Regions from separate parts of the Homo sapiens genome. Here region 2 is linked to region 1. The links come from fine-mapping of genetic effects on gene expression. A gene starts in region 1. The other region holds a variant in brackets. All regions are shown on one strand. Distances are between the middles of the regions. Region 1 holds the start of ITGA4 (integrin subunit alpha 4). Region 2 overlaps LINC01934 (long intergenic non-protein coding RNA 1934).

What was found. PIP is the estimated chance that this variant, and not a neighbour inherited with it, causes the effect.
Region 2: its variant is the best candidate, but not a certain one, in a credible set for the expression of ITGA4 in whole blood (Lepik 2017, PIP 0.57).

The regions. Positions count from the first base shown.
Region 1 is chr2:181,455,686-181,460,084 of GRCh38, reverse strand. It overlaps ITGA4 (integrin subunit alpha 4), which reads right to left and starts at 2,699. Exons shown (of 28, transcript NM_000885.6): 1 at 2,234-2,699; 2 at 1,768-1,889. The coding sequence starts at 2,430. RefSeq lists enhancers at 1,653-1,702, 2,063-2,112, 2,173-2,362, 3,083-3,192 and a silencer at 2,513-2,902.
Region 2 is chr2:181,232,374-181,236,772 of GRCh38, reverse strand. All of the region lies in intron 2 of LINC01934 (long intergenic non-protein coding RNA 1934), which reads right to left. Among named protein-coding and RNA genes, the nearest start is that of MIR4437, 71 kb to the left of the region's middle. The variant T/C (reference allele first, on the strand shown) is at 2,515.

The DNA.
Region 1 (4,399 bases):
CATTCATCCATCCAAAAGATCTTCATTTAATTCATATCTATGACATATCTACTATGTTTACATTTCTCTGAGAACAGTCAACTCCCATGCTACACATGCCCAAACAATTTTTTCCTTCCATTGACAGGCATTATCTTAAATTTAATACAGTATTATGTCATGATTTATCCAGTTAAACACAGACATCCAGAAATAGATTCAGTGTCCATCCAGACAGGAAGTAGGCACTAAATATCAGTAGTTATAATGTCATGGATCAGGAAACTATGACAGGACAACAGAAATAAAATTGCTCCCTCCTGAGACCTTGCCAAGATCCTCTGGCAGACCAAAGTTGTCGGCTCCACTCCCTAATTCTTCACCCACAACTCTCTCATGCAATGAAAATTATGCTTTGCAAAATCATTCCAAAATGTATGGGTCTGTGAATGTTTTATGCATTCCTACTGTGATTTCTGGTATTGAGGATGCTTAACAAGAGGCTAGGGCTTATTCTACATGCTACAGACAACTCGTAGACTTTTATAGGTGCTCTGAGTTAAAAGTAAAAATTCCATTATGTTTATACTCTATCTGAATTCATCTGAATGAAGGGAACCAGCTTCACAGTTTGAAAAAGAGCAAAGACTACTATAAAATACAAAAGAAGTTAAAGATCCAATAACTAATCTCAAAAGTCCATTTATAGCAAAGAAATATAAAGAAGTACCAATTTTATTCACCGTTTACAGATGACCCATCAGCTCAGCAGACAACATATTAAACCATTCACTTAATTTTATTTGCATTGAAGATACATACATGGAAGAAAATGGCTTAGACTTTGGACGCATTCAGACCCTAGTTTGACTTTAGTTCCCACCTATCAGTCACTAGCTAAGTAACTTTTAAAAAGGTATTTGCAACTCTGAGCCACAGTCCTCATACATAAACTAGGAACAATGTCAACCATGACCCAGGGTTGCTTTAAGGGGAAAAAAGTTAAGCAATATATATAGCAGTAACACTTTGGAACAAGATAGGTCTTGTTATTTAATATTCCTTCCTCTTTCCCCACTTGCCTGTGTGCAACAAACTTGTCTTTGGCTTTGAAACATGAAACTTCTCCCCTCTATCAGTACACATTTTTCAACTTGTCACAAATCTGAGACATTGAGAAATGACTGCAAAAAGATGGACCCATATAACATGAGTTTTGGATGACGGTTTTGGGAATGGAAAATTATACTACATTAACGATGAAGATGCCAATTTTCCTTTTCTTTTAGATTGTATATTGTAAGTAAAACTATCACTTTTTTTTTTAGGCCTTTAGGTTAAACGACGGGATATGGGATCAATTCCAATTGCTATTCCTGATATGCTCCTTAGCCTGTTCTTTAAGAGGGTTGATAGGTCAAAGATGGAAATAAAATTCTCAAGTCTTGGCTTAGCTGGATCCTGTCCTTAATACGCTGAGAGAGTCTAAAATGTGCTTTACACACGGAGAGACGGGGAGAGATGAAGAGAAGGTATCATAAGAAATTTCTCTAGCATAGTTGTCAGAGTACTGCAATCATTGCCATAAGGAAAAGGGAGAACGATATTAACAGAAAGGGAATCCCTTTTATATTAAGGAGGCAAGATGAGATGGAGTTGAAACTGAAAACTTTATGCTCTTTAAACCAGAAGTAACAGGCAACGTGAATCTTTCCAGGACTTGCCCTATGGTGGGGTCCACATGGGGGGTCGGGAGGTCACTAACTCCTGGTCCCATACCCAACTCACCCAGCTGGAGCTGTTCGCACGTCTGGCCGGGATTCTTTCCGATCCTGCATCTGTAAATCGCCCCGGGATTGATCACTGAAGCGTTGGCGAGCCAGTTGGCAGTGGGCGCACCCACTAGGAGCCTAAAGCGAGACACGTGCACGTGCGCTCAGACGTGAGCTGTGCTGCCCACTGAGCTCCCTGTCGCCACAGATGTGCAGTCCGCAGCAGGGCAGCTTCCCCACCTCCTCCTCCGCCCACCACCCCCGACTCGAAGCTCCAAGACCTTGCACCATAACGCACCCGGGGCGCTGCCGCCCCAAGATAAGTTAGTTTCCCTGGCAGATTTCCAGCGAGCTGGCTCTCGCAGCGTTTCCCTCCTGCCTCCTTGGGAGGGAGGAAAGTTTGAATCGGGCAGGGAATCCCTAGGGCGCCATTCTCACGCCGCTCTGAGCTGCTGAGGGCGCATCAGTCCAACTCTACTCACCATCGGTTCGCCCCGTGGCTGTGCAGCACGACCGAGTAGCCGAACAGCGTGTTGTGGGGGCCCTGGTAAAGCAGCGCGCTCTCAGTGTCCACGTTGTAGGGGCGGCCGGTCGGGACCCCCAGGCACAGCAACAGCATCACCGTCTCCCGGACGGCGGCCCTTCGGGGGCCGGGTTCGCGCCTCGCTTCCCAAGCCATGCGCTCTCGGTGGGGAACATTCAACACTAAACGGCCACTACCCCAAAGTTGCACGGGATGCGACGGTTGGCCAACGGGGAAGAACGCCCCAAGAGATGAGGCGCAGCGTGTCCGGCGCCAGCGGGCTAAAGGAAGGAGAGAGGGAAGAGGAGGGGAAGTCGGCCCACCGCGGGCGGAGCGTTCGGGCCGGCCTGGGATGCCGCGCACTCGCCCGGCCCCACTCCCGGTTTCTGCCGCCAGCCGGGAGCTTCGGGTGCTCGCGCTGCTTCTCCGGGTACGGGCCGCTGGGTGGGGTCCCGGGCGTGGTGCGGAGGCGCAGGGCCGGGCTCCGTCTCTGCCTACGCGCGGCTGCAGGGGGCGCTGGGGAACCTCGGCTGCGCAGGACTCGCGTCCTGGCCCGGGCCTCCCAGCCCGCAGAGCGCGGGATGGCTCTGGGCTCAGCAAGAGCGGACCTGATGGGGCACGGGCTTCCCCTTTTAACGGTGGTTGGGGCCTAGAAGCGGAGCTGTGTGACCCCAAACTGCGCGCCCCTCGCTGTGACCGCCCAGCCCGGCGTGGCCCAAATGCCAGCCACAAACTCGGGGAGTGGGACTGCGGCGGGGAGCCGTCCAGTTCTTTCGTTGATAGTTAAACACTGTGTCTTGTTTTTCAGGTGTAGGCAACCACTAGATAAATTATCAAGAGCCACAGATTAAAAACAAAAAACCAAACAAAAAGACTCGCCGAAGGCCCCTGGGGAACATTTTAGTGACAAAGACGTTATGGCTATTCTCTTCAAGACCCACATCTCAGCACCCTTCTATACCCACTTCCTTCCTCCCCACACTTCCTCTGCAGCCCGGGCTGCATGCGTGAGCAGGCTAGCAGCAGCCTCTCAGGCTGAACGGCAGGCGGTTTAGGCTGTGGCTGACCCCAACAGAGAGGTTGGGTTAAGGAAGCACTGTGACTTGATTCACTTTAACCGATTCGGATTGCTCCAGCTGGTAATTGATGATCCCCCCTTTTCACGCACCCACTCAGTTGCCACGGGACACACCTGCTTTTAGGGGTGTAAACCCCAGTGTGGGGTCAGGGTCCTAATGAGCCTCTGAAATGTGCCGGAGACCCACAACGCAACACACCTGAACTGGGTAGTGAGTCTCATTCTAATGCAATCCAGGTGTGCCCTGCCTTTTTTTTTTTTTTCCTTCAGCAACCAGAGAGACAGCCATAGGTGATTATTAGACTGATATTTTCAGGAGATGAAAGTCTAGTTTTTTATTGTTGCTATATGTAAAAAGAAAAGAAAAGTCTGCATCAAAGAGTGTGTCTGTGTGCTAAAACCATGCTGGAATAAATAACACATCTGACACTAATGACAGATACACAATTAAAATGCTTATTCATTTATTCAGCACATTCATGGAGCAGGCACTTGACTAGGACCACAGGATTCCACCAAGAGTAAGGCAGGACTGATACAAAGTTTCAAAAAATGTTCGCTCCAATGGTAGATAGAAAAATTTGTACTAACTAGAGAAAGATCCAGGTAAGGACACTTAAAGAGAGATTTGAAGGACCAGGAATCTTGAATCAGGCTAAGAATGGGATGAGCAATAAGGAGGGCTCCAGAGGAGCCAGGTAGAAGAACTGAGAGAGCTTGCCTGGCTAGAGTATTTAGCCACTCCACACACAGGTTGGTGTGATATGAGGCTGACTTAGGGAAGCAGGAATACATGGTGAACCTCATGAGCCAGGTTAGGAATTTTAAATCTATGTTGGGACTGACAGGAAGTTGAAGAATTTGTCTCGGTCAGCTCTGGGTTTCAGAAGTGTGAATGCAAGACTGAACACAGAAAACCTAATTTTGGAAGCCCCTGCAGCAATAAGTAGAGATAGGATAATCCCAAGGGGAAGTATTTCTCTTTCTTGAAAGAGAATGGTGCTACCATTCATGGAGAAAAAAACACTGAGAAATGAAGTTATATGC
Region 2 (4,399 bases), 220 kb after region 1:
GTAAATAAATACATAGATAAACCTCCCTCCAAGAATAATAAAATGGTAGAAGCCAAGGGACACATAATAATATGACAGTAAAATGATATAAAAGAATGAAAAGCTTTGATTATCTGTGTCAGGTATCTGTATATATTACAACCTCAATATTTTGGTTTTGTGTTATACGTGCAAACTAAACACAATTTTAAGAAATTTTTTAGGTCATACTGTAACTGCTAAAAGGTCTACAATTATGCTGATGCCTAGTATCTTAAGATAATTGCAAGTTAGAAAGGAGAATATGGAACTAGCTCATTCGCTTCATTTTGTAGATTAAGAGCTGAGTTTGAAGGGAATCAAGCATCTTGACCAAGTTCTTACAGTTAGTTGAATGGTAGCACTATACCCCAGGCTCCCTGGGCTCCTTCAATTTTCTTCAAGCTTATTATGTTCTGTATGAAAGGAACATTGACCACCACCACCACCACCACTTACTAAAGTCCTAGTATGTGTCAAAGGAAACAACTCCCTGACCACCACACATTCATTTCTTACTTTAGGACCCAATTAGGCTATAAGAAAAGTAACCACAAACACATTAGAGGAACTGAAGATTGGGTGGGGTCAGAAAGAAGGGCCTTCCAAGAAGTGTCAAGAACTATGATAACATGACCACTGTGGTATCAATGTATAGTTCATTCATAATATAATAATAAATAATATGGATATTGAATCCTGAACTCCCTAACAAGTGGCCTAGACAGTTTTTTATTTTGTTTCTATTGGATTTTAATGAGTAATACATGTGGCAGTCAAAGATCTGTGTTTAAGTGTAACTTGGAAGAAGACTATTATTGACTTCTATCAAGTGGTGATATTGAAAGCCACAAGATGATAAAAGTATCTAACTCCTGTTTTCTGAACCTATTCAACAAGTGCTTTTCAGTGGCATTAAATACTTTCTGGAACTACGTGGGGTATATTAAAAATAAATAAGTGAACGAGTTTTTGTTTTGTTTTTAATAAATGGCGGAAACTAAATACTTGTATTGACACAATCTGGGAATCAGTTATACTTCAATAGCATTTCTTATTGTGATTCGGAGATCTAAACAGTAAAAGATTTATCTACTAGAAAATGTCCCACGTCATGGAGTTAATTTTTTTTTGAAGTTTTGACTGATAAGCTGAATTATTATACATACCACCTTCTGATTCTGCTGCACCCAGTGGAGCTGAAAATATTTACAAGGGTGTCCTTATTTTTTTCTCCAACATACCTATAAGCGGCATTAAATTATTCTACACTTTATAAGCAAGGACGGTTTGGTATTTGAGGTTCACACTCCTCTAGCATCACAAAACCATTTGGCACCAGCCTCAGGAAAGTAAAAGAATCTTAAATTAGGCTCATAAAATTGACCTGGTTCTAAAGAAAGATAGCCACTTGATAGTAAAGGTACTACGAGCACAGGGCTCTGCTTATGAACAGTAACACTTATTGACTGCTTCTGATGTGCAGGCACTATGCTAATCACAAGTATTAACTCATTTGGTCATTAAACCCATTTTATAGATGAGGAAACTGAGGCACAGAGAGTTTAGTAGCTTCCTTGAGATTTACAGCAAGCAAGCAGTAAGCTAAAAGCCAGGAAGCCTGTCTCCAGAACCTTGCTTTTACCCTGGTCTTCTTCTCTACATATCCCACCTTTCTATTTCACTCTTCAAATGTTGCCTTACTGAGTGATCAAGCTCTTCCTCAATTCCCATTTGACCTTTGCCTCCTCACCAAGAGCCAAAAACAGCTGAAAATGTTTACTTTTATTAAAATAAGTTTACTTAGGGTAGCAAGGACTCTAAAACTCAAGGCTAGCAATTAAGCAAGTGGAGATTCCACACAAAATGTTTATTTGTCCCAAGAGAGTCATTACAGCTCTCTTAGCTTAAGAAAGTGATACAGTATATGCTTTTGAGGGTTCCACATAACCCACATGTCAGCTGCCCCAGTTGGTATTCACCAGAGAATTCCCTGCATCTAAGGCCTTGTGCTTATGTTGTAAAATGTACTAATGGATATTAACATTATGATAATGCCAAAAATCAAATTCCAAAGGCTTATCCCAGATACATGGCTTTCATCAGCTACACAAACCTCAGGGGAGATTTTATCAACTGCTGATCAAAGGAAGCAGCAGGAGCTGATACAAGCACAAGACAGGGCATGTGGAGTGTCCTCCACTCAAGTACACCCCAGAGCAGAGCGTCTCCAGGAGTTGAGACAGCACATCAGCAACTCAATTGTAGTATTCAAATGAATGGAGTTCTCTTTAAGGGCAAGTCTCTGAATAGAAAGTTTAAAATCTGATCCTGATTTAACATGACTATGCCCTCACCTGGATGTATATTGCTGTAAGAGATACCTTACCCATATGAGGGTCATGTCAACTTGCTTCCAAACATAAATGAAGTGAAGCACAAAATCATGTGACTCCTCAAGTGTACTTAGCTCTGCACAGATAAAACTGCTTTATT[T/C]GGAATCACGGAAAAAGAAGAGGGAAGGGCATCTGCAGACCATGCAGCTTATTAAACCAATTTGTTTCCTGAGTCAAGTACTTGAGGTACTCTCAGTTCTAATTAATGTCTCTTGCAAATGCAGCCTCATAACTAACGTTCATTCTTCTAATCGTAGCCATATGTTCCTTCCATCGTTTTAATGATATAAATGGAAATTATTGGTGTTTATCATTGAATATTTCTATTTAAAAAAACATTTTTTCAGGCTGATGCTTTATGCTAAGATCAGTGGGTGAGAAAATCCCTCTCTGGAAATATTTTCTCACTTCCTGTAGTCCATAAGTGAGGCCTTATTTATGGTTTTTAAATATCGCATTAAGAATTTTGCCTCCATTAGATCCATGCTACTAAAATGGCAGAACTCTTCACATAAAAAACAGAGATAAACTGAAAAGGGGATAGCTGAGTCAAATATACAGCCTGTAGGTTGAAGTATAATCATTACATCTCGCTTAAGGCAAGAGAGGTTGATAGTTTACAATAAGCTTCAAGAAAATCACTTGCTTATTTCCAGAAGCCAATAGCTTAAATCAAATTCCTTTACCTTCTCTAAATATGCCACATATGTTTTCATTTTAAGAAGTACTTTTTATGTATGTGACTGTAGTAAAAAGATATGTACAGATATACAAGATTTCAGAGCTGGAAGAGACCCTAATGATCACCCAGTCAGGTGGTCCATAACCCTCACTGTGTACCCTAAACAACTGATGAGCTTGCAGACTGGTTCTTCACCAGAGAAATTATAATTCAATTGCTCTGAGGTGGACCCGGTGGAGCCAGATATACTGTTTTGCAAAAGTACTCCTGGTTATTCTAATATGTGGTCAAGCTTGAGAAGCACAAATCTTGTTTATCCATCTCTTTTGGAGCCAATGATATTAAATGATTTATTCAATGTCCATAGACAGTTATGTTTGACAGGGGGGAGACTATGAGCTCAGGCTCAAAACCCTCACACCTGTGCATTTTCTTTTATCGTTTACTAATACTTCTTTAATCCATGCTTTTAAAAATAAAGTTAATTTAGCAATAGAAATATCTTTTAAAACAAGACAAAATAAAACCTAGAACTATTCTTCCATTCCCTTTTCAAGGGTCTGTCCCCATCTTTTATTTTTTGTCATTGTAATCTCTCCAAAGTGCCAGCTGTGTGTTAGAAGGTATCACTGTATAACTCCAGGATTAAAGTAAAAATATTAGTAAACCATTCCAGAATCGCCAACAGTGCAAAACACAAAAGAAAGACTCCTATTTACCCTTGTATTAAAATATAACAATAGCAGCCAAATCATCATTCCGTGGCAGGAACTGTACTCAAGTGTTGGATCCAGACCATCTCACTGCATCTCAGCAAAAACTCTGTGAGGTCATATATTACTGTCATCTCAGTTATACAGATAAGAAAGCCAAGGCACCAAAATTTATTTCCCCAAATAAATTCCCCCAATTTAGGTAACTTTGCCTGGCTAGGAACTGGTAGTCAGTTTAGTCTTTTTTTTTTTTAAGTTCAATCTTAAAATCACAAGATGAAACTGTCCTTCAAAAGCAGCATTTTACCTTTACTCATAATAAACTAATATTTACAAAGCATTTTTAAAAGAACATTATACTCCTTTCTCATCTGATCTCATTTAAGTATTACAAGATTTATTTACCATAATCATTTTGTTAAAGAGAAACTAAGGCTTAGGGAATACTCAATGTCCTCCCAGGTAGTAAGTGGCTAAACCCAAATCAGAGTTTTTGTTATGATTCTATGTGTAGTACTGCACTCCAGCCACCATACAGCTTTAAATCTGAAGATTGTTTTCCTGGCTCTGATGAGTATTTCATATGGTCA